Homo sapiens: one gene and its partners. The protein of the gene in region 5 purifies or fractionates together with the protein of the main gene of each other region. This does not show direct contact. Each region holds a gene or a part of one and is shown on either strand. Other genes may lie near its edges. The genes, in order: SUPT6H, XPNPEP1, MYO1E, URM1, RNF20, BRAP and THUMPD3.

Region 1 (3,500 bases), on a different chromosome or scaffold from region 5:
AGATGGGGTTTCACCATGCTGGCCAAGCTGATCTTGAACTCCTGACCTCAAGTGATCTGCCCGCCTCGGCCTCCCAAATTGCTGGGATTACAGGCATGAGCCACTGTGCCTGGTTGACAAGTTGGATTTCTAAGGGATGGGGCCCTGTGCTACACATTCTCCAAGGTTTAACAGTGCTCCTGCAGGGCCAGCCTTGGGGTCTGAGGGCTTCCCATAATGGAATAAACACCGCATGTTTTACCTCTCCATGTCAGTGGTGTCCAGAGCCCGGATGCCATCAGCAAGAGGTTTGTCAGGGTCAGCAGAGATCTGTTCATACTGATAAGCCTGCATCTTCTCAAACAGCCGTGTTAGGTTCTCTTTACGGATCCGCAGCTGGGTCCACTAAGGTGAAGTAGGGCAGGAATGAGAGCTTGTGTTCAGCCCTGGAGACTCAAGGCTGCTCTGATCCTTACCAGAAACCTAGTGGGGGAGGACTAGACAGGCCTGGGGGGTTTGGGTTTGTGGTATCCTGGTAGTAATGGTGCCTTCCCTGGCCCACACCTCTTGGGGGCCACGGATCTACATTACCTTTTCATCCCACTGCCAGACTCTCCATAGGTCATTGATGTGCAACTCAGGCTCCACATACTCCTTTCGATAGAAGGCAATAAAAGGCACCTAGGATGGCAAAGAGACTGCAGTCACTCAGAGAAGACAGATTTGCTAAGATCCCCTCTGTCAGTAGATAATGACTTCCTGGAGAAACAGCTCCAGGAAATTCAACAGTCAGAAGCCTGGCCTCCCTCACAGCCCTTCCAGGGCCTGGTGCTTTCCTCAATAGGAGAAAATAAAGCTGCAGACAGGGTAGCATTGTTCTTACGATCACTAGGGTCTCTGCTGGTCCTAACACTTGTTGAGTCATGGATAGGGGATACGGGAAGGGGGCTCCCACCTCATTTAGGTAATTATCTTTTCCCTCATCCCCTAACTAAATTTCTCACCAATGGGCCACCAGAGCTTGAGGTGTTACCTCAAAATGCTGATTTCGCATGAAGCCCAGGGCCTCTTTGATCTTCTGAATTGTGCTGGGCCCTTTCCGACTGAAGCTGCTGGCTGGCTGCCCTCGGTCTAGGTAATCACAGCTTTCCTACAGTAGGAAAATAAAGAAATAGCAAGACAATGTTTACTTGGTTTGTCTTACCATACAAGACTGCTTAATAACAAAGGATAACCTTTCTAGATGAAATCTAAAAAATTTTTCTCATATACACACACTTGTTGGGACTACATACACACAGTTTTCTAATACCAGGCACACGGATGTATGAAATAGGGGAGGAAGAGCTCCCCATCTTGATGAAGTGTCTTTTGGTTCATGTCAAAACCTAAGGATCTTTTTTGTGTACCTGGAGAGAAATGGTTGGTGTGGCAAAAGCATTCCTGTAGATCCAGTCAGCTTCTTCTTCTAGTTCATCATCTTCAGCCCCCTTGACTGGGATGGAGCGGAGCTGGAGTGGATAAGACAACAGGGTGAGACGGACTTTATCTTGTGTCTCACTTAAGAAAAACATACCTTTTTGGACAGAAACGTGTGATCATCAAGTGCACATTTCCAGTATTGTTCTACAAATGCCATACCAGTGTTGTTCTGGCATGAAATAAGCATTTTTTTTTTTTGAGATGGTGTCTCACTCTTGTTGCTCAGGCTGGAACACAACGGCGCGATCTAGGGTCACTGCAACCTCCGCCTCCGGAGTTCAAATGATTCTCCTGCCTCAGCCTCCTGAGTAGCTAGGATCATAGGTGCCCGCCACCACGCCCAGCTGATTTTTTTTTTTTTGAGATGGAGTCTCGCTCTGTTGCCCAGGCTGGAGTGCAATGGCGCGATCTCAGCTCACTGTAACCTCCGCCTCCCAGGTTCAAGGAATTCTCCTGCCTCAACCTCCCAAGTAACTGGGATTACAGATGCATGCTGTCAACGCCCAGCTAATTTTTTTTTTTTTTTGTATTTTAGTAGAGACAGGGTTTTACCATGTTGCCCAGGCTGGCCTCTAACTCCTGAGCTCAGGCAATCCACCCACCTTGGCCTCCCAAAGTGCTAGGATTACAGGCGTGAGTCACCGTGCCTGGCCGCCCAGCTAATTTTTTACATTTTTAGTAAAGACGGGGTTTCACAATGTTGGCCAGGCTGGTCTCGAACTCCTGACCTCAGGTGATCCACCCACCTTGGCCTTCCAAAGTGCTGGGATTACAGGTGTGAACCACCGTGCCTGGCCATAAGCATTTCATGGTTTTTTTTTTTTGAGACAGGGTCTGCTTCTAGGCTGCAGTGCAGTGGTGCAATGATGGCTCACTGCAGCCGTGACCTCCCAAGTTCAAGCAATCTTCCCACCTCAGCCTCCTGAGTGGCTGAAACTACAGGTGTGCACCATCACAACCAGCTAGTTTTTTGTATTTTTTGTAGAGACAAGATCTCCCTATGTTGCCCAGGCTGGTCTTGAGTTCCTGGACTCAAGCAATCTGCCACCCTGGCCTCCTAAAGTGCTGGGATTATAGGTGTGAGCCACAGCACCCAGACTGCATTTCACAGATTTCTAAAGAAAACAGTATTTCTAGAACCGTAAGCAAGGTAGAGTCTATCTTCCCTTCTCTAAGAGCTGGATTTCCCAGGCCCCAGGTGAGATGAGGTTCAAACCTGTGCTGGATACTCAATGCCAGACTTTTGCTAGAATATTTCTTGGCTACAAGGTAATTATGGATTGGTAGAAGAGCAGAGGCTGGTGGTTTTTTACCTGGAACCTCTCAGGCAGGTCAGTGGCTCGGATTTCATTGTCCTGATCTGTGAGGTGGCTGCTTTCTAGCTCACTGGGCTCATACATTTCAAAGATGCTCCTACGGCTCACACGCTTCTTGGTGGTCTTCTTGGGGCGCACTCGGATTTCACCCTCAGCCTCATCATCCTCATACTCATACTCTTCCTCCAGTTCTTCATCATACTCATTGTATTTCTCAAATTCATCATAGTCAAAGTCCACACCGAAGATTTCCTGGGCTTCTTGCAGGGCCCTGTAGGTGGCAGCAAGAGGCAGGTGGCTCAGGTTCAGGTGAGAGGAGAGAAATGCAGCCCTTGCATAGATCCTTTACTTGTCCCAAGGGAACTGAGAGGGTTAGGAGGAAGGTAAACAAAATAACCATATTCACTGTGGACGAAAGGCTTCATTGGCGGATATTTCTGGGCAAACTATTGTATATGGAAGATTAAAAAGCTCATCTTTGGCACCTTCGAGTGACAGTAATCAAATAGCAACAGAGCAGACGGGTCTATGTCTTGCTCAGTGGACCCATCTTCTGCTAAGGCATTACAGTATTCCCTCAGGGCAAAAGCTTTCAAATTTGTAAATTGTGATGCGGGCATTTGTCTTCCAACAAAAATATATTAAGAATGTCAATATATATATAATTGAATAAACATGGAGCTGTAGGCGGAAGAGGAATGCTGGAGCCTTGCCCATGTGGGA
Region 2 (3,500 bases), on a different chromosome or scaffold from region 5:
GAGTTAAGACCCATAACCCTCTGAGCTGGGCAAGTAAGCACTGTTGTGCCCCAGGCTTTGTGAAGGGTTTCACTGCCCCAGAGTGACCACAGTAGTAACCGAGAAGGGCTGGTACTATCTTTCTCCTTGTCTGTGTGAAAACAGGACATACGATAATAGATTTTGCTTTCCATTTCCTTAATGTTTCATGTAACACAAGAAAACAATCTGGTATGTACAGTGGCCAAGAGGCCCCACCATCCATCTGGCTTTTTGTAGGGACACACATAGGCTCATATTTGCTAAACACGCCTCACTGCAGCTATGGAGGAATAGTACAGCCAAACAATGGCATACGAGTTCCACCCACAAACCCTACAGCCCCAGAATGGCTGCGGGAAACAGGACTATCTCCACCTGGAGGCCCAACAAATACAGGAAAAGCTCAGGAGTCCTCAGAAAACCTAGGGCTTTCAGACTCAACTGGCCTAGACCTCTAAATTTAAAAATTACAAAGTGAGACTGGATTAGAGAATTTAGGATTTAGAGGATGGATTAGAACTATTTAAGGTAGTCTCCACCTCCCCTAGTAACATGCCTGCCCACCAAGACTTCCCCATTACCTCTTTGTCTGTAAGAGAATCCACATCTATCATTTTGGTCTGAATTGGAACCAATGTTAGAGGTTCAAAGGTCAGGCTTCCCCGGTTATTAAAATTATACTGCGGGAGAAAGAAGAAAACAGATGCTTTTACTCCTCTTTACTATGCTGAAGCACCATGAGGTCATTCCACCAGCATGCCATCCCTCAGAGCCAGGGGTAACTGGGAGCCAAGAAGTGGTGAGCTGGTCACCACTTTTCACAGACACACAAGGAACCTGATGCCATTTTCCAAGAGCTCCTCCACTGGGCAAACAATGGCCTGTGCCATCAGGAAAGGCCAAACAAAGGGTGCTGAGGGGCTCCCAGCAACAGGTCCCAAGGCTAATGTCTACTGTGATAGGAAACAGGGGCAGGATATGGGGGTATCTGGGCTTAGGGGCATCTCTGGTTTTGGTTCTCCAGGATGCAGGGGTGTAAGTCCTCAAAATCATTTTTATAACAGTCAACTGTGTGGTCTGCCTTGACCCAGCCAGGCCCATCAGGCGACAACACATCTATCCACTGGAGCACACAAGAACATGTCGGGTTTCTGTTCATGGCAGCTTTTGGGAATAAGATGGGAGGTCACTTCCAAGAATAGTGACTTCCATGCCAAAGCAGAGAGCAGATCCCCGCAGTTAACCTCCTTGTAGACACAGGAAGCTACTTCCCTCCAATTGTTCAATTCCACCAATGGAGGAGGCACAAACAGGTCTTTTAGGTAAAGCCTAGAGCCTAAAACCCTGCAACCTTGGTAACACTGATGGGGGAAGAGGGTGAAACACCTGTCTTGTATTGCCTTTGAGGCTGACCCATGGATAACTCAGGGTTCCTCAACTTTACCTAATAAAAGTCACCTGGGGAGTGTGACAAAATTACAGCTTCCAGGCCCCCCACCCTGGAAATTCTAGGGTCTGGGAGGGGCCCTGGAAATTAGCGCCTTGAATAGGCACCCCTAGCAGAAGAGACAACAGGCCGCCTATAGTAAACTCAGAGCCCCAAATCATGTGAAGCAAGCATCAGCCTGAGGGTCTGTGAATCCCAGTTCTAGATCCCAGTTCATTAAGGATTTTCTTTCTGGCTTTGCAGGGAAGGAGTGTGGTTTCCAGGAAAGTCCCTGATATCTGGAGAAGAAGGCTCCATGTTGGCCCCAGAATGGCATACTCTTGGCTCCAAAGACATTAAGTCTTCATCTTCCCACACTAAGAAACAGGAAAATTTTTAAGCTTTGCGCAGTGGCAGTATTGTAGCCAATGAGGTCTATCCGAGGCGTGATTATTGCTAATAGAAACAGGAAAATTTTTTTAATAAATCCTCACCTTGGTCTTCACAGGAACCACAAGGACAACATTCTCAATGCGAATTCCAAAAGCCCCATCTTCATAGTACCCGGGCTCTAAAACAAACCAAATCCCAAAAATGAGAAGCAGCCCACGATGAAGATGTCTACAGAGAGAAACTTTCACTCCTTGGATGACTGCCCTACTCCAAAGGAGAAGAAACGGGTGAAGAGCCCACTCTATCTGGTGTAAGAGCCTAGAGATGCCACCTTCTCTCATATGGCCACTTTTTTATAGGCACTTGAGGTGCAGAAAGCTAGACTCTGAAGTCCCTGCACACTGGCTACAGGGTAAGGAGTAAAGTAACAGTGGATCCACTAAATAAATCATGGTTCACATCCGTAAGACACAATAATGAAGGCATTAAAATATATTTACAAAGACTTGGCAATGACCTGAGAAAAGGCAATGTATCAAGTAAGAAAGCAGAACATAAGACAAGATGCCCAGTAAGATCTCAATGATTTAAAAAAAAAATGCTATCTACATACCTGAAAGACCAAAAGCTAATACAGTAAAACACTAAGTCATGTTTCCCCTGAGTGGTTAGATTGCAAATGATTTTCATTTTCTTTTTACACAGTTCCCATCTCATTTTTTCTAAAATGAACATGTATCAGTTCTATAATCAGAAAAGTTTGTTGGAAGGGAAAAGTATTGCCAATTTACTTTAAACTAATTAAAAAATACAAAACAACGAATAGCTTTCAAAAAGGCTCAAGGATCCACGCATGCCCTCTATGTGAGGGACACTTACCATCAGTGACAATCATGCCTGCCTCCAAGGGCTCATCAGAGAATGTTTTGTAACTGATGCCGCAAGGACCCTCATGGACATTCAAAAAAGACCCAACACCATGTCCAGTCCCGTGCAAGTAATCTAGGCCTGAATCCCATAAAGCTGAACGGGCAAAGGAGTCAAGAAGGTGACCTGAAAGACATAAAGAGCCACTTAATTGTATTTGTACAGCGCTTTAGAGATTAAATTTATTATGTGTGGCTCCAGAACGTGAAACAGAAACCAATAGGTAAGTTACTGGAGGGTTCAGATTTCAGCACAGCACAAGGAAGAACTTTCTAACAATCAGAGCTCCTGAGAAACCATCAGAGCTCAGTCTGAAGCTAGGCGATCATCCATTCAGGATGCTGGTGAGCGGGGATAGACACCTACAGCACACAGAGGCCGTATCAGACATGGACGTTCCCTTGCCAGCTCTGCGACCCTAAGGTTTCAGAATTACAAAGATGAGACTCTAACCAGACTGCAAGCAGACAGGCAGGCATGACAGATGAGGAAACTGAGGCCTAGGGAGATGAGTACATGTCTAATCTACCCAAAAGCAAGGCAGCCCAGGTCTTGTCAATGCCCAGTCCAATGCTCCACCCACCAGGCCTCAAGCAAAGTAGTACATAGCTGAAGTCAGGGTCCCAGTAAAATAAATCCTAAGAATCCCGAAAGGAAGCACTGGCCCAGTACTAAAGGGCAGACAGGAGGCTGCACCAACTTCCACTCAGGCCCTGTGACCTTCATATCTGGT
Region 3 (3,500 bases), on a different chromosome or scaffold from region 5:
TTGAACTCCTCAGTTCAAGAAATCCTCCCACCTCAGCCTCCCAAGTAGCTGGGACTATAGTGCATGACACCACACGTGGCTAATTTTTAAAATTTTTTTTGGTAAAGGCCTGAACGACCACACCCGGCAAAAAAATAGGTTTTATTACATAGCTCATAAATGACCATTCAAAAGTGCTTTGAACAACGGCAATGACGTCATTCTCATGGTGGTAACTCAGAAGGGCGGGCCAACTTCATTCACATGTACAGTTTGAGTTCTATGGGTTGTCAAAGTTCATGTCACTATGTTAGGGCTGGCTTTTACAGTTGTACTTCTCTTAAGTGTGGCTGTCCCAAAGATATATGAAAAAAATACTTTGCTAGGATGCCCCAAAACCTTTTGTCTCTGCCAACATAAATTCTGAAACTGAAATTCAAAACACAATTTGTTTACCACTATTACAGAATGTGCTTATAAGGCTGAGATGTTTATTTTAATACCTTTGGCATTTAACCTTTAACCTCTTATTTACTTTGTAAATATTTCAGCATGGTGAGAAAAAGAAAAAAAAAGTTTTTAAAAACTCACCATTAAGAAACATTTTAATCACAGATTGGTAAAAACACAAGTTGCTGCATTTTCGCAAAAAAAAAAAAAAAAAAAAAAAAAGAGATGACTCAAACTTGGAAAACCATGACTGTACATAATTCCTATATATCCTACCATGAAGCTTATAATACCTTGCACTTACACAGAAGATTTAAAATATTTCTGCTTGTTGAAGCAGATAAAAAGAGATTTCTCAAATTCCTAATGAATAATAAGGCCCCACACTTGGCTCATGAGGAAACGCAAGGTACTATATGTTCTTTCACTGAGTCTCACAGGGGCTCATCACATGCCCACACTAGGCACAGAGGCAAAATGTTGTATTCTAAGTTATCAGAATGCACGCCGCTGCTCATTATCTAACCCTCAGGAAAACGCCTGAGACAGACCGCCAATTCATGAGATTCAACTGAAAAAGGAGTGAAAAACAAGAAGTCCATCATGTGACATTGGAGGCCATGGCATTTTCAGTGGAGGAAGGAGTTGAAGGGTTGAAGAGAAAAGCTCAATTTGCAGCCTCACCACTCGTGGAACCATCCTACACAGGTGTTGAGATAGCGCCAAACAGTAGCAGCTGGATGCAGATTTTCCCTGTTATAATAGCTTAGAGAATGCATAGGCTGAAAATACCAGGCTATTCCCTCTCTTTAGGGAGACCCAGTAGGAAGGTGTGGATGTATGGATAAATACTGAATGCCACTACTGGGTATGCAGTGAACGTTTAGACATTCTTCCTGGTGAGTGAATGAGAAGAATCACTGTGGTTCACAGAAGGACACCATGTTAAGACTTACAATAAAGTGGCTGCAAACAGCTAATCTGCAGCTGTGTTTGGCCCCTCTGAGATGATCAAATCACATATAAAAATTGGCAGAGGCCGGGCGTGGTGGCTCACGTCTATAATCCCAGAACTTTGGGAGGCTGAGGCGGGCAGATCACCTGAGGTCAGGAGTTTGAGACCAGCCTGGCCAACATGGTAAAACCCTGTCTCTACTAAAAATACAAAAATTAGGCGGGTGTGGTGGTGGGGCCTGTAATCCCAGCTACTCAGGGGGCTGAGGCAGGAGAATTGCTTGAACCTGGGAGGCAGAGGTTATAGTGAACCGAGATCGCGCCAGTGCACTCCAGCCTGGGCGACAAGAGCAAAACTCTGTCTCAAAATAAATAAAAATAAGAACTGGCAGATATAGCATAAAAATCTAGATTTCTAGTTTCTCTTGAAAAACAAGATAATTTGGTAATATGGTCGATATAACCATGGCCTAGAATCAAGTAGTGGTGCCTCCTAGAATGGCACATATATTCCATATTTACTCTCTAGAGGCCAGCCTCCCTCCACCAAATTATAAGACATTTAAGTTTGCAACCACTGGCCGGGCACAGTGGCTCATGCCTGTAATCACTTTGGGAGGCCGAGGCAGGAGGATCACGAGGTCAGGACTTTGAGACCAGCCTGGCCAACATAGTGGAACCCCGTCTCCACTAAAAAATACAAAATATTAGCTGGGCATTGTGGCAGGCACCTGTAATCCCAGCACTTTGGGAGGCCGAGGCAGGAGGATCACGAGGTCAGGACTTTGAGACCAGCCTGGCCAACATAGTGGAACCCCGTCTCCACTAAAAAATACAAAATATTAGCTGGGCGTTGTGGCAGGCACCTGTAATCCCAGCTGCTTGGGAGGCTGAGGCAGGAGAATCGTTTGAAACCGGGAGGCGGAGGTTGCAGTGAGTTGAGATCGCGCCAGTGCACTCCAGCCCGGGCGACAGTGAGAGACTCCAACTCAAAAAAAAAAAGTTTGCAACCACTGACAAGACTGTAGTCCTCAGCAAAAGTGTGGTGGAGGTGACTTTCAACTTCAGTAAATGTCTGCTTCTTATACTTCTCCATCCCTCTCCATCCACTGCTCCACCCATTTTCTCTCCAAGGAGATGCCTGGGCTGTCAAATATTTCCCACTAGGATGGCCCACTCACACTTGTCCCTAGATAATGTCCCGGACTCTAGGTATTTCCCCAACGCTTTGCCTCCATCAAAACTTTTTTTGTGCTTGATCCCATTCCTTTCTGGTTTTGTTTTGTTGTATTGTGTTGTTTTGACTAGGAGACTACTAGCAATCTGATAAACTAATCTGTGGAAATCAAGTAGGTTACCTTCCCAGGAAACATTTGAAATGTATTCCAGACTTTCTAAATACATGCCATGCCATCACCTAAAGGAACTTACCTACCTTATCATCAGCTATCCATCAGATTTCTAGGTTGTAAATCTATTCCTGGGTATTCTTATGTGTCATATCTATAATTTCCTCACAAGTATATGCAAGTAAGGAAAAGGGAACAGCTCTTGAACATGTTTTGAGGTGATGGTCAATTCAGATTTGCTCAAATATTTCTGTATATTTAATGCACAGAAACCTTGCATAAAAATCAATCACAATTTCTGGATCCAAAGCACATAGCGGACCTACAGCCATGGGTTTCAGTCTATCAGAGAGTCCAAACTGGTCATGGCCACAAAAGCAGAACTTCCTTTGCAGATGATGATAAGCCCAGATTCTACGAAGGAAGCCTTAGATGGGTATTACGGTTAAAGTCAACAGAGATTTTTTTGTACTCTGCTAAACAACCTCCACTAAATTATAAAGATGTGCAGGGTTTTTTTTAACTTCTTCAAGTCTCCTTAGGAAAAAGACACAAGTAACTATTGCCTGGTAGTGTTCCTAGTTTTCTCAAGATAGAAAAGTGTCCCAAAGTGAGTTTTCAGGAGGAAGATAGAAGGTGAACTACAAGCTGTACACTGTGTTCATGAGTCAGAAAATGAAAATGGCTATTTTCCTTATGAGTCACAACTGAATGAGTCTTAGTAGGGCCTCAGGTACAGATGGAGAGCCCTCCTACTATGCTACCAGA
Region 4 (3,500 bases), about 27 Mb from region 5:
CCTGGAGTCAGACAGGCCTGGTTTTGAGCTGGACTCCATCACTTACTAGTTCTATTACCTTAGGTAATAGGAAGCCTCGGCTTCCTTTTTTTGTAAAATGGGGATGTTAACATTGTCTCATAGGGTCATTGTGGGGGATCAAATAAGACGATATATACAAAGCTCTCAGCACTGTGCCCTGCATATCAATGCTGTAATTACTCCAGGATCCAGAGGAAGAACCTATACCCCTCGCGCTCTCTGGGTTTCTGCACGCTCTGCCCAGTGGCCTGGCACCTCAGCTTTAGAGGGCAAGGTAGAGCCAACCATTAATCAGATAGTGCTGGGACCGGCTGGGGTTTTCTGTGGCATCCCGTATCTTCCCATCAGAAGCTGGAAAGGGAATGAGGGGACTGCGAGAGTAGTGAGGGGTCCTAGATACTGACCTTCCTTCTGTGTTAGATGTTTGAACCCACAAGATGTTGGGGTTGGCCAATGCTCCCAGTACAACCCAGGTGGTAGGAATGACACTCTGAGTCTGTAGGTGCTGGCGGCCAGGCTGCCCCCGGGCACACAGCACCAGAGGAAGGAGATGGGCACTTAATACAAGGTTTCCAGTGCAGGATACCTTGGCACCTGGCCTGCCCATCGGGGGCAGAGCAGGCAATGAGAGCTGCTGCTCTATGCTGGAGTGGTTGAGTTCTGAGTCTACAGCCAGAGGACCTCGGCTGTGTGCTCGATGGCCTTAGCTAGGAAGTCACTTCATCTTGCTGTCTCAGTGTCATCCTCTGACAAGCAGGGATAATAATCCAAACACCAAGAGCTGCTGAGGATTACGTAAGGCACAATGCCCAAGGCAGGCCTGGCAGTGTCACACACACAGGACACGCTCAACAGATGGCTGCTCTGAGCTGTAAGCCCACAGTGACTTCAGATTCCTCATCCTCTGGGCTCCAGTACCTTCTAAAGGCTGCTGCCAAAGGGAGGATACCCACTGTGGAGAGCACCGACGCAAGCTCCACCAGAATCCCTCGCCCCGGTGGACTTGTCCTATTCTGGGGGACACTGACTGCCCACTGTGGGAGGGCCCCAAAGGGTGTCAGCCTCAGCCTCGTGGGACTGAAACGGAACAACCTCAAAGTCGTATCTGATATTGACTCGCAGGCGTAACAGACCCTCATCCAGCCTCTCTTTGAACACCTCCAGGGACAGGAGGTCAGCTCCTCTGTGGAGCGGCTCTGATTGTTAAGAGCTCTTTTCTCCCAAGCAGAAATCTGTCTTCCTGTCATTCCCACCCACTGGGCCTGAATGGTCCACGGGGACCATGCCAACAAATGCACCCCCTCTTCCCCAGGATGGCCCTTCAGATTTGGAAGAAAGGATCCCCTAAGTCTTCTCTTCCACAGGTTAAACTGCCTCTGTCCCCACCAAGTCCACCAGGCTCCAAGACGGCTCTTCGGAGAGCCCACCCCAGGCCTCAGTTGAAAAGGGAAAAGAAAGAGCTGGCAAGGGGGGAGTAACAGAGGAGAGGGGGTGGAGGGAACATCAGAGGGGCCATTTACAAGTGAATGGGGGTAAGAATGGAGCAGTTTGTGGGCTAAACTGGCCTCAGAAGGAGGTTTACAGATGTGCGAGGGGACCTCCTCATTGTTTAATTAAGCAGAAAGTGGATCTTTTCAAAAGCAATTTTGCACAGGGACTGGGAGGGGTGTGGGGAGGAGGGAGGTGGAGAGGGGATCAGCAAACAGGCCCTGAGAGCAGAGAAAGGAACAGCTGGCCCCAGAGAGGCTGTGAAATGCATGCTAAGCAGTTTAAAGCGCCCAGGAGCTCCTGCAGCTCCTGCCCTCCCTCACCAGCCACCCTTTAACACAAGTGGAGCAGGCAGAGGGGGCACAAAGGCAGGACAGGGGAAGACAGGCAGGGAAAGGTGAGGCGGCCATGTCTACACTTGGGGCCTGGGCAGGGGGCCTTGGGTCAAAGGGATGCTTGAATCACAGAGGCCAACTCCCAGCAGCCGCAATACCCTAAGCTGGTGGGTGCCTGCATGGCCGTTTCAGCGAGATGGCTGTTAAGACATCCCTTCTCTCACACAACTTCTTACTGGGTCAGCACACTCTGCTTCACCGAATTGTATATACTTGGATCTTGAAGAAACTTTTCTTATAGATGTCAAAGAGACAACCAGCTCAATAACATACAGAGCGAGCCCAACCTCCCATCTTACAGATAGGGAAGAAAGAGTCTGGCAGGAATAAGTGATGTGCAACTGCGCGTGCCAGGCTTCCTCTCTCGCAGTCTCACTCCCTCAGGCCTTGCTCATCATTTCTCCCAAATTGGCTGGGTTGGAAGCTCTCCCCTGGCCTAGGAGCCACGAGTTCCCTCATTTGTGAGGCTTGTCACATTCTGAAATCTTACGGCTGCTATTATTTCTGCTGGAACCTCCAAGACTCGCTTGGCCAAGTGGCAGCCCCTAGGCTGGGAAGTCTGCCAGATGACATATCTGGGCATGGACTTGGGGGAAGGGTAAGACTCTCCTAGCAGCACCAGGCCCCTGACCCCCAGCTGGGCTCACATGTGCCAGGGTGAGGCCTGGCAGCTGCTAACCAGCTCTGTTGGTGACCTAGGTCACCAACCTAGGTTACCATGGGTCTGCTGTGTGACCCATGCCTCTGGGCACAACAGGAACCAGGTGTAGGGACTCACAGCAAAGGAGCCAAAGACTAAGTGGGCCATTGTGCCTTCCCTCCCACTCCCCTCCTTTCTTCCCAGAGTGGGGATAGGCCCCTGCCTGTTCCCTGAACAGTGGCTGGAAGATGAAGGATAAAAAAATCTGAGTCCCAGCCCAGCCTCCCTACTTGGGTAACTCTGGGCAGGCCTCAGGTCCCTCCCTCCTTCTCTTTCTCTTTTAGGGGTCTCTTATCTCTTGGGGTCATCTGAAAGTTGAAATAAGTAGTTGTTGAACTCATGAATAAATAAATGAAGGAAAGCGTAAAAACTGGAAAATGTAAGATGTTAGAGTAATTCAGGGAGCCTCTTGGGATAGACGGTGATGGGTTAGTGGCAAAGCGCCAGGACTCTGAAATTCAGTGGCCTGAAAGCTAGTTCTGAATCCCAACCCTGCTATTTAAATAACTCTATGACTTGGGGTGAGACCCCTGACTTCTCTAAATTTTGGTTTCTACCTTTTATTTGTTTTGTTTTTTGTTTTTGAGACGGAGTCTTGCTCTGCGCCCAGGCTGGAGTGCAGTGGCACGATCTCGGCTCACTATACAACCTCCACCTCCAGGGTTCAAGCGATTCTCCTGCCTCAACCTGGGATTACAGGTGCCCACCACCATGCCCAGCTATTTTTGTATTTTTAGTAGAGACAGGGTTTCACCATGTTGGCCTGGCTGGTCTCTAACTCCAGACCTCAGGTGATCCGCCTACCTTGGCCTCCCAAAGTGCTGGGATTACAGGAGTGAGCCACTGCACCTGGCCTTGGTATGTTACCTCCTTAAAGAGACCTCTGCTGACCACCT
Region 5 (3,500 bases):
AAAACACGTCACTTGATTTTATTTCAGACATGTTTCCATATTAGCAGATCCATATTTGACAAGTACACTGTACTCTTTTGTAGGAATAACAGTAGAGATGTATAATTTATTTACCAATACCCTAATGATGAACATTTAGTTTTCAAATTTTTTTCCAATCACAAAAATGTGCCACAATAATCATTCTTTTACTTATATCATCATGTAGAAAGCACCCTATTTCAACAGAATAGAAAGCTCTACTCATCCTAATTACCTGAGTCTTCAGAGTCAACACCTGGTCTGCCAGCTCCTCCTTCTCTTCTTTAAGCAACTTATGGATCTGATTGGACTTGATACGCTCTGACATGAGCTTGAAATTTGCATCATCCTTCTCCCGCAATTGCTGCATCAAACGGATATTTTGCTCCTGCATGTCTTCAAAGGCCTGGCCTGTGACATCCATTTCAGAGAGGAGTGCTTCTTCTTCCTAAAGGATGAAGGAAGAGATTTGATTTTAGAAGAATCTTCCAACTTCAATGGAAGAGCACAGGAAACTAAATTTTCCCACTGTTCATTTAGATATAAATTAATTTAGTGACAGAGTTTTAAGAAGTTGTGTTTTGTCACTAGGCATACAGAAGCTCTATTATCTGAAGTCACTGGCACCAATTGTTGGTCTGATACTTATTAGTTGATCTGTACTCAACGTCAGTTAAATTAGACAATAATTGTATTTACCTTAATCTAGACAAACGGATCAAGCAGCAATTGGTTAAGAGTACTTCCATCATAACCTCTCACATTTTCTCATGCTTTTCCACAATTAAAATACTGGATCTACAGGATTTCCAGCAGTTGCAAACATCTAAAGCCTTGTAACAATCTGATAGGTGAAGACTGGTATCTAATAATAGCTTTACTTTATATCTATCTCATTTTAAGTGAGACTGAGCATCTTTTCATATGGTTAAGACCACTTGTATTCTTTCCATAACCAACTCATTTCTTTTGCCTATTCTTCCACTGGATTCTTGAGTTTTTTTCCCTATTTTGGAGAGTTTTTTTTGTATCAGATAAGCCTTCTTTGTAATAAAAGTTAAAAATATTTTTTACTTTTTGTCATTTAATCTTTTGGCTTTGCTAACAGTGTTTTTTGCAGTGTAGAAGTTTTGCATCATTTTAAAAAATAACTCAAAATTATCAATTTTTTGTTCATGTTTTCTAGCCTTTTATTCATAGAAAGGTCTCCACTCCAAATTATAAAGGAATTTAATGGTTTTCTTCTAGCTTTTTGATGGATGCATTTTTTAAAATATCATATCTATGATCCATTTGGAAATCATCCTAGTGTATTCAAGTATGTATCTAACTTTTCTCTAACATTATTTTTTTTAATTTTGTCCCATCACATGTCACAGTTTTTCTTTTCCCCACTGATTTAAAACTATGTATTTAGCACATAATAAGTATCATGTGTACTTTCAACTACTTCTCAAGTTTCTATTCAGTTCTAATAGCCTGTCTAGTAGTCCCAAGCTATTTCATCTACAGAAACTTTATGTTTTAATATATGGAAGAGACCCCAGTGCTGTTCTTTTTCAATTTCTCTTGTTACTCTTGTTTACTTCTCCACATGTACTTTAAAACCAGTTCTTCTAGTACCAAAATAAACAAAAGCAAAACTTAAAAAAAGCACTTTTATGAGATCACATTATATTAATACATAAACTTAGAAAGACTGAACATTTTTAAGATAGTCATCGTATACAAGAACATAGTGTCTTTCTTTTTACTTGTTCTAGAACCTATAATAGTATAATTTCCTGATAATTACCTTAAGAGAGAGGGAAGAAAAAAAAAAGTGGCATTTACCAGATTTAAGAAAAGTCAAAATTACACTTTTTTTTTTTTTGAGATGGAGTTTTGCTCTTGTTGCCCAGGCTGGAGTGCAATGGCGCCATCTCGGCTCACTGCAACCTCCACTCCTGGGTTCCAGCAATTCTCCTGCCTCAGCCTCCCAAGTAGCTGGGATTACAGGCATGCGCCACCAAGCCCAGCTAATTTTGTTTTTTTTTTTTTTTAATAGTGATGGGGTTTCTCCATGTTGGTCAGGCTGGTCTTGAACTCCCGACTTCAGGTGATCCATCCACCTCGGCCTCCCAAAGTGCTGGGATTACAGGCATGAGCCACCGCGCCCAGCCCAAAATTACACTTGTTAACAAAAGGAATGTGTATAGGATCTAATGAAGTTCTTCTTTTCAAGGCACTTCATGATCAACTTACCATTAAACCTACTCCATCTCACTGTTATTTTGCTATTTCTTAGAAACAATGAAGGTGTACTAACAGAGAATACATATATGGTTTTTTCAAGCATTTTCAGTATCTTTATTATTGAATTTTAATAAAAATTCCCTGGCATTTAAAAATACATACATATTCATTATAAGGAGGAGAACAATCTCTATAGTTCTATGACCCCAAAATAGCCATAGTTAACATACTGCTTAATCAATGTTATTATATTGGTTAATAGATTATATCCTTATTATATATAAATCACATATTTATAAGCATAGTTTTTCTGTGTAGTATATGTACTACATAGAAATATATAATGATATATATTTATAAGCATAGTTTTCTTAGTTTCATATATTTGTAATCATAATGTATATAAAATCTTATGTCTTATTTTTCATTTTATATTCACTATAACCCTTAATTCCAGGTCAGCAAAGAAAGACTAGATCTTCAATAACTGTCTGAACAACAGCAGAGAAAGACTAGATCTTCAATAAATGTCCATTTAAATAAAAGTAAATTTCTTGCCTCACAAATACACAAAACAAAATAACAGAAAGATAAAAGACTTGAAGGTAAGAATTAAAACACACACACAAAAAGGAAAAATACACATTAACAATCAAAAAAAGACCAAAATAAAAAAGCAAATTTCACTGGCAATAACTTATTGTCAAGTAACATTTACTCAAAAAGTCAATTAAATAAAGAAAGTGAGTCCACCTGCTTGGCCATGGCTAGCTTCTTCTGTAGGTATTCTATCTGCTCCTCCACTGCCCGGATCTTCCTCAAGGCATCCTCATCAGCCATTTTCTTGTTCTCTTTCTTCTCTTTATCTTCCAGATCCTTGAGTCTTTGCCTTAGATCTTCCAACTATAAGAGGAAAGGAATTGCACAAAAATAAAAAGTTATAACACATTTTCAAAAATCAATTAATACTGTGCAAAGATAGAAGGTTCATAATACCAAAAGAGTCTTTACAGAATTATAGAACAAGGTACATAATATACTAAAACATTACATAACACCATCTGTTTTAACATCACTCCATTCTACTATGACATGCTTCTATAAGCAACACTTTTGAGAAGTGCACAGGTAACTTTCTTTAGAATAGTGGTTCCCATCCTTTTTTTTAGGCCTCAAAATTTTAAGAGCATAAGACATTCCTCCCAAAAGTAATGAAAAAGATTATCCCTGTAGCAATGAATTAC
Region 6 (3,500 bases), on a different chromosome or scaffold from region 5:
AGCCACCGCACCTGGCTAAACACAAAGGTGTTAATGTACTTATTGAAATGCACATGATATCTCACTGCACCGTGAACATCATGTGGAAGATACCAGTGCTCTATCAGGCATTCATGTCTCAATTTACAAAAAGCCAATAAAAACAATGTTGAAAAAATCCATTAACTGTTTTCTATTATACTCCACACAAAATAATACTAAATACTAGTCATGAGTATTTTTGTTAGATGGGCAACTAGGACAGAAAGTGGGTTATAGCTGAGGCTGACTGAACTGGCACCAGGAAGAAACAATGCTCAAGATATAACTAGTGGCTAGGCGCGGTGGCTCACACCTGTAATCCCAGCACTTTGGGAGACCTAGGCGGGCGGATTACCTAAGGTCGGGAGTTTAAGACCAGCTTGACCAATATGGAGAAACCCTGTCTCTACTAAAAATACAAAATTAGCAGGGCATGGTAGCACATGCCTGTAATCCTAGCTACTTGGGAGGCTGAGGCAGGAGAATCGCTTGAACCCAGGAGGCAGAGGTTGTGGTGAGCTGAGATTGCGCCATTGCACTCCAGCCTGGGCAACAAGAGCGAAACTCCGTCTAAAAAAAAAAGCTATAACTAGTAACAGTTACCCAACTAAGTAAATAAAACCAAGAAAATGGAATAAACAGGAAGAACACTGTGTCACAGATGACACAGCTCTATCTGTGTAAGAGAAAGGAAAGGATCTAGTCCACTTCTTCCTTTAGCATCAAAAGAGAAGACAGAAGACAAACTCAAAGAAAGAACAGAAATGGTAGCCAGAAAGCAGAATGCAGAAAGTAGAAATTGGCTTTGTCTCATCCCTTCGGTCTGTGTGGTGGCTGTGAAAGTGGTTGAATAAGAAAACAGGCCAGGTGCAGTAGCTCACATCTGTAATCCCAGCACTTTGAGAGGCCGAGGCAGGAGGATGGCTTGAAGCCAAGTCTACCCTGGCCAATGTGGCAAAAGCCCTTCTAAAAAAAAAAAAAAACAAAAAACTAAAAACAACAGAATTAGATTTCAGAACTGGTTCTGAAATCTAATTCTCTACACTATGCCCAAATGATCAAAACGATCTTTCTGAAATGTAAATTTGATCTTGAAAAGAAAAAAAAATTACAAGAATAAACTTGTAAACAAACAATTAGCATTCTATGATATACTACCTCATCTGTCTACTAAAAAATAATCAACAGTTTATCGGCCAGGCACAGTGGCTGACGCCCATAATCCCAGCACTCTGGGAGGCTGAGGTGAGTGGATCACCTGAGGTCAGCAGTTCGAGACCAGCTGGGCCAACATGGCAAAACCCCATCTCTACTAAAAATATAAAACTAGCCAGGTGTGGTGGTACATGCCTGTAGTCCCAGCTACTCGGGAGGCTGAGGCACGAGGACTGCTTGAACCCGGGAGGTGGAAGTTGCAGTGAGCCGAGATCACGCTACTGCACTCCAGCCTGGGTGACAGAGTGAGACTCCATCTCAAAAAATAATAATAATAATAATTAACAGTTTATTAAATTCTTCCTGCCTTTCTCTGCAAAAAATTATTTTATCCTATTTTCCTGATGAGATCTTTGGGAGCTCTTCCCAAAGCCTTCTCTGACATCTCTATCAAAAAGACCAACACTGCCTCCTACTGCAGCCCTTCCTGAGTACCCCTGGTTGGGGATGCCATCATTCTCTCTTCCAATCTCCACCCTGAACCACATGTGTTTATGTCCAAGTGTAAACTCTCTTAGACCAAACCACCCCAAAGAGGACCTGAATTTGCTTCCTCTGTCTCAGCATCTCTCACAGTTCTATGCATGTACCAAGGCTCAAAACTCATTAAATGAACTGCATGATTCTGAGGGCAAATGGCATGTCTTACATCCCATATGACAGGTTGAATTCTAGTCCCAGTTCTGGCATTCTCTGGCCATGACACTTTGAGCTTGCAAATTCTTATCTTTGGGCCTGTGTCCTCCTCCTGTATAAAATGAGGTTGTTGGAAAAAATGGTCCCTGAGGAAACTTCCAACTTTAAAATGCTATGGTTCTGTAACAGTTAATTTATATCAAAAGGAATACTGGGGATGGGTATCGTGGCTCATGCCTACAATCCCAGCACTTTGCGAGGCCAAGGCAGGAACACTGCTTCAGCTCAGGAGTTCAAGACCAGCCTAGACAACATAGCGAGACCCCATCTCTACAAAACAAACAAAAAAAACAATTAGCTGGGTGAGATGGTGCACACCTGTAGTCCCAGCTACTTGGGAAGCTGAGGCGAGAGGATCACTTGAGCCCAGGAGTTTGAGGAGGCAGTGAGCTGTGATCATACCACTGCACTCCAACACGGGTGACAGAGCAAGACCCTGTCTCAAAAAAAAAGTAAAACTGGAGTGGCGGGGAACAAAGAATTGCCTAGAACTTAACTGGTATAGCAGATGGACTGAAGATACAGGTAAACACTTTAAGGAATGCACATATCTCAGTATGGCTTTGTTCAAGGCAACTGGACAATTCCTTGGAAAACTCCCAAATGATACCTAAGAATTGACTGAGGACTCCACGGAATTGGAGCAAGACTCCTGTCCAGCTAAATAAGCAGGGCAGTGATAAGCTGCAGAGACCCAGTTTATTTATGTGCTCCTCAGTGTCTACCACTGTGTGCCACGTCCCCCACCAGGTGTGAGAGACACAGCAGTGAGCAAGCCAGGCATGGCCCCCGCTCTGTGAAGCTGATATTCTTCTTCCGGCCACCAGGCCACTTGTGGGTGGACAGAGATTCCTGTAGACTTTCACCCCTCCTCACTTCTGTGCTTGGGAACATGATCTTCCCCTTCCCCCACTGCCTTCTCTGGGTTCTGCTCTTTACCCGGCTTAACTCCTAATTACCCTCCTGGAGATGCCACTTCTCAGGTGGTCCTGGCTTCATTAGGGCCCCAGTTCTCAGTCCCAATGCTGCACACTGCTCTTCTGTAACACTGGTTATGGCTGTGATTTATTTACTTGTGTGATTTCATTTCTGGGTTCCCCTCTGTACTGGGAAATCCAGAAGGCCAGCATCTGATACACCTTTCTGGTTAAGTCCCACAGTGCAGTCTGCAAAGGGAGCAACCATCCTGGATTTAGGGGGTAAAAAAAAGGTACAGGCCTTACCTGTTCTTTGTCTGTAGCAACATCACCTATGACTAAGACCTGGTATGTTGGGAATCAGGAGGCTGTAGAGTAGATCTCATACTTAGTAACTGCTATTTCTACTGGCCACCAAGCCATCAACAGCCCAGCAAAGCTAAAATATTAGGCTGCTGTAGCCCAGTTGATAAGAAGCCCAGAGTGAATGGCAGACACCAAGTGCAGCTGATACATGAGATTCCAGACCTAGATTTCACTGCAGCACGAGAGCCTCAAACTAAGCTTTGCTTTTTTTTTTCACTCTCTGGCTCTTGGAAGGAAAGAACAACTCATGCTGCTTTGGGGAATTCCACAAGGGTTCAGAATCAG
Region 7 (3,500 bases), on a different chromosome or scaffold from region 5:
AATGGGCTAGAAAGTGAATTACAGGTAATTTAAAAATGAACCTCCCATGATGGTCAGGATTCCAAATGTAGTTAATACATTCCTGAGTTCTCGGAAGAAACATAATGGGTGAATCCATCATGTTGTTAAGTGAAAAACAGCTCTGCTAAGTCTGCTAAAATTCAAGATTTTTTTCCTGACTTAGAATAAACGCAAGGAAAATAATGACATATTTAGAAGACAAGCAGGTACTAGTATTTCTCACCTTTTTCCAAATGGCAAATCTGTTACAATAATATCCACAGAGCCAGTTCTCAATGGCAGATTGCAGATATCCCACTGAACAGCATCTATGGGCAAGCCCCAGGAGGGTTTGCTGTGGGGACAAAGGAAAGGTGCTTCAACATACTGTGAAGCATAAAGTTATTACAACAATTTTTGTTTCTGAAGAGAGACTGCTACAGCAAAACATAAACTGCTAAGGATATCAGTGATAATATCAACCTATTCAAAATTTAAGAAATGGCACAAAGGTAAAAAATAGGTCAGGCTGGGCATGGTAGCTTGTGCCTATAATCAGCACTTTCAGGGGCTGAGGTGGGAGGATCACTGGACTCCAGGAATTTGAGACCAGCTGAGCAACACTGTGAGACCTTGTCTCTAAAATACTTTTTTAAGAAGTTAGCAGGGCATGATGGCACACACCTATAGTCCCAGCTACTCAGGAGGCTGAGGTGGGAGGATCACTTGAGTCCAGGAGTTGAAAGATGCAGTGAGCTAGGATTGTGCCGCTTTACTCCAGCCTGGGTGACAGAGCAAGACCCCCGTCTCAGAAAAAAGGGAAACAAACTGAAAACATGATTGTAATGCAGAGAACTGCAAAAGACAACTTTAAAAACAATGCTGAAGCAGTAAATTACATAACCGATGATACAAAAATTTAAGTTGCTGATAAAACATACACTGGAGAAAAACAATACTAAAGAATAGATAATGGGGTGATGTATCTGAAGAATAAAGTTTGTAAAACTAGTAATAACAGGAGGCCTAAAAGAAAAACAGATAGTAAAATTGGCAAATATATAGGTAATTGTTTCAAGATGAAAAACCAAAAGGAAAATATGTGCCATGCTATATAAAACAAGACTAAGAAAAAAGTTAAGATAAAAAATATAGATGACAGAAGACAGAATGAATAATAATAAATACAAAGGATTTAAATCCTCCTCATTAAGGCAAAGCAACTGGTTTAAGAAACAAAATAATGCACAGGCTAAGAACTGAAGATAAGTCAAAGGTTATCAGCAGAAATTAAGGATTTAATTGACATTTAATGAAGAATTTAAGAAAAAAATGCAATAAAAGCAATCATTACATAATTTTTAAAAGTACACATAAAATATGTATTATAACCGCATACCAATAACTGCACAAAACAAAAGGCAAAAAATATTAAAAACCAAAGTAAAATGGATAGAAATGTACAGGTTGAGGCCGGGCACAGTGGCTCATGCCTGTAATCCCAGCACTTTGGGAGGCCAAGGTGGGCAGATCATGAGGTCAGGAGATTGAGACCATCCTGGCTAACATGGTGAAAACCCGTCTCTACTAAAAATACAAAAAAAAAATAAGCCGGGCATGGTGGCGGGTGCCTGTAGTCCCAGCTACTTGGGAGGCTGAGGCAGGAGAATGGCGTGAACCCGGGAGGCGGAGCTTGCAGTGAGCCGAGATCAAGCCACTGCACTCCAGCCTGGGCGACAGAGTGAGACTCCGTCTCAAAAAAAAAAAAAAAAAAAAAAAAAAAAAAAAAAAAAAAAAGTACGGGTTGAACAGACAGTGTAGGTACAAACAAGATAAAATATTCAGAAGCTAGAAAGGTACGTTTGTTTAAATGTTTATCAGTTTTAATTAAAAAAAAAAAAGACTGGCCATATACTAGGCTCATTAAAAAAAACCCTCAATAAATATGAAACAACCATTCAAAATTAATTCATCACAATAAATCAGTATTTAAGAAAATTGAAGCCTTCCAACTACTTGTCTTAATACACGTAAAAGGATTTAATGTTGATACATAGACCAGCAGCATCAGCATTGTCCTGGAGTTTCCTGGAAAATGCAGACTCTTAGGTCCCATCCCAAACTACTAAATCAGATCTGTGTTAACAGTACTCCTAGGTGATTCACATGTACATTAATGTTTGAGAAGCACTGTCCTAAAAAATTAGATCAGAGAGACAATGAAATATATAACCAATGACTTAGTAATAAAATAGAGGCGAGGCTATATAAACTGCAGTATTTCTATACGATGGAATTTATGTAGTGACTTTAAAGACTATGGTCCAGGTGTGGTGACTCGTCTCTAATCCCAGCAATTTGGAAGGCTGAAGCGGCAGAATCTCTTGAGGCCAGGAGTTTGACACCAGCCTGGACAAAACAGCAAGACCCCCATCTCTACGAAGATTTTAAAAAATTAGCTGGGCATGGTGGCACATGCCTGTATTCCTAGCTACTAGGGAGGCCAAGGCAGGAGGATTGCTTGAGCTCAGTAGGTTGAGGCTACAGTGAGCCATGATCATGTCACTGCACTCCAGCCTGGGTGACAAAATGAGACCCTGTACCCAAAGCAAAAAAGAAGCCTATGTAAAAATATACTGTTTAAAATTTTGTGAAATTAAAATGAGTCTATAAAATATTCTTCCAATATGTAGGGGAAAAGACATATGAATAAGACAAATGAAAAATTGCATATGGTGGGGAAATTATCGCTAAAATAATATTTTAAAAATATAACTTATTTTCAATAAACTTTAAAAATGTAAATGGAGTCTCATAGTATATTCATTTTGGTTACAATGACGTCACAATGCACTGGGAGTTTTAATTCATAAAGTCAATATAAAAAGTGATTCTCTAACTCTAAAAGATGCTAAGAAATCTTTTAAATTTTTACCCTTCTTTAATTTGGCTCTTGGTCAATAAAGATGCAATGTTATTTGCTGCTCTATTCACAGCCAGTGGATTATTATCACCAGCAATATGGAAACAGTCAGACCATTCAGTGGCCCCCTAAAAGATAAGAGTGTATGTTAAAACAAAAGTAGCAAACTGTAAAATATGATTAAATTGTCAACAAACAAAGAAAATCCAGTGCTTTTCTAGAGTGGCAAAACATTGCATGTTGTCAACTGTGCTATTTCCCTGGCTGAAAATGCCCTCTTATTCTTTCTCTGCTTGCTGAACCTCTACCCATCTCTTAAGACCCAGCTCAAACCTCATGCCCTTTCAACATCAACCTTAACTCTCCAAGCAGTCTTATGTGCCCCTCCCAAAAACACTTTGTATGTACGTACCTCTGCCACTGCACTTGTCCCACGGTTAATTATTTCTTCCCCTTTATGCCTCTCAACTAACCTGGGAGCTCTCTGAGGTCAGGTCTAGTATTTTATTCAGTTCCTCATCCAGCAGTGTCTGGCACACTAAATTCTAAGTTAATGCGGTTTGAAAATATTTGAGAT

The links.
Region 1: the proteins of RNF20 (region 5) and SUPT6H purify together in Homo sapiens (affinity purification with western blotting, with the first as the bait; one study listed by BioGRID). This does not show direct contact.
Region 2: the proteins of RNF20 (region 5) and XPNPEP1 fractionate together in Homo sapiens (co-fractionation; one large-scale study listed by BioGRID). This does not show direct contact.
Region 3: the proteins of RNF20 (region 5) and MYO1E fractionate together in Homo sapiens (co-fractionation; one large-scale study listed by BioGRID). This does not show direct contact.
Region 4: the proteins of RNF20 (region 5) and URM1 purify together in Homo sapiens (co-immunoprecipitation; one study listed by IntAct). This does not show direct contact.
Region 6: the proteins of RNF20 (region 5) and BRAP fractionate together in Homo sapiens (co-fractionation; one large-scale study listed by BioGRID). This does not show direct contact.
Region 7: the proteins of RNF20 (region 5) and THUMPD3 fractionate together in Homo sapiens (co-fractionation; one large-scale study listed by BioGRID). This does not show direct contact.

The regions. Positions count from the first base shown.
Region 1 is NC_000017.11:28,675,705-28,679,204, reverse strand, and holds part of SUPT6H (transcription elongation factor SPT6), read right to left. Parts: intron 3,049-3,500; coding exon 2,775-3,048; intron 1,491-2,774; coding exon 1,389-1,490; intron 1,130-1,388; coding exon 1,013-1,129; intron 661-1,012; coding exon 571-660; intron 385-570; coding exon 242-384; intron 1-241.
Region 2 is NC_000010.11:109,868,012-109,871,511, forward strand, and holds part of XPNPEP1 (xaa-Pro aminopeptidase 1), read right to left. Parts: intron 2,894-3,500; coding exon 2,720-2,893; intron 2,019-2,719; coding exon 1,942-2,018; intron 702-1,941; coding exon 603-701; intron 1-602. UniProt on the Homo sapiens protein: Metalloaminopeptidase that catalyzes the removal of a penultimate prolyl residue from the N-termini of peptides, such as Arg-Pro-Pro. Contributes to the degradation of bradykinin.
Region 3 is NC_000015.10:59,366,372-59,369,871, forward strand, and holds part of MYO1E (unconventional myosin-Ie), read right to left. Parts: intron 1-3,500. UniProt on the Homo sapiens protein: Actin-based motor molecule with ATPase activity. Unconventional myosins serve in intracellular movements. Their highly divergent tails bind to membranous compartments, which are then moved relative to actin filaments.
Region 4 is NC_000009.12:128,381,374-128,384,873, reverse strand, and holds part of URM1 (ubiquitin-related modifier 1), read right to left. Parts: intron 1-3,500. UniProt on the Homo sapiens protein: Acts as a sulfur carrier required for 2-thiolation of mcm(5)S(2)U at tRNA wobble positions of cytosolic tRNA(Lys), tRNA(Glu) and tRNA(Gln). Serves as sulfur donor in tRNA 2-thiolation reaction by being thiocarboxylated (-COSH) at its C-terminus by MOCS3.
Region 5 is NC_000009.12:101,554,353-101,557,852, reverse strand, and holds part of RNF20 (E3 ubiquitin-protein ligase BRE1A), read right to left. Parts: intron 3,160-3,500; coding exon 3,010-3,159; intron 470-3,009; coding exon 257-469; intron 1-256. UniProt on the Homo sapiens protein: Component of the RNF20/40 E3 ubiquitin-protein ligase complex that mediates monoubiquitination of 'Lys-120' of histone H2B (H2BK120ub1).
Region 6 is NC_000012.12:111,661,957-111,665,456, forward strand, and holds part of BRAP (BRCA1-associated protein), read right to left. Parts: intron 1-3,500. UniProt on the Homo sapiens protein: Negatively regulates MAP kinase activation by limiting the formation of Raf/MEK complexes probably by inactivation of the KSR1 scaffold protein.
Region 7 is NC_000003.12:9,380,054-9,383,553, reverse strand, and holds part of THUMPD3 (tRNA (guanine(6)-N(2))-methyltransferase THUMP3), read right to left. Parts: intron 3,052-3,500; coding exon 2,936-3,051; intron 356-2,935; coding exon 245-355; intron 1-244. UniProt on the Homo sapiens protein: Catalytic subunit of the THUMPD3-TRM112 methyltransferase complex, that specifically mediates the S-adenosyl-L-methionine-dependent N(2)-methylation of guanosine nucleotide at position 6 (m2G6) in tRNAs.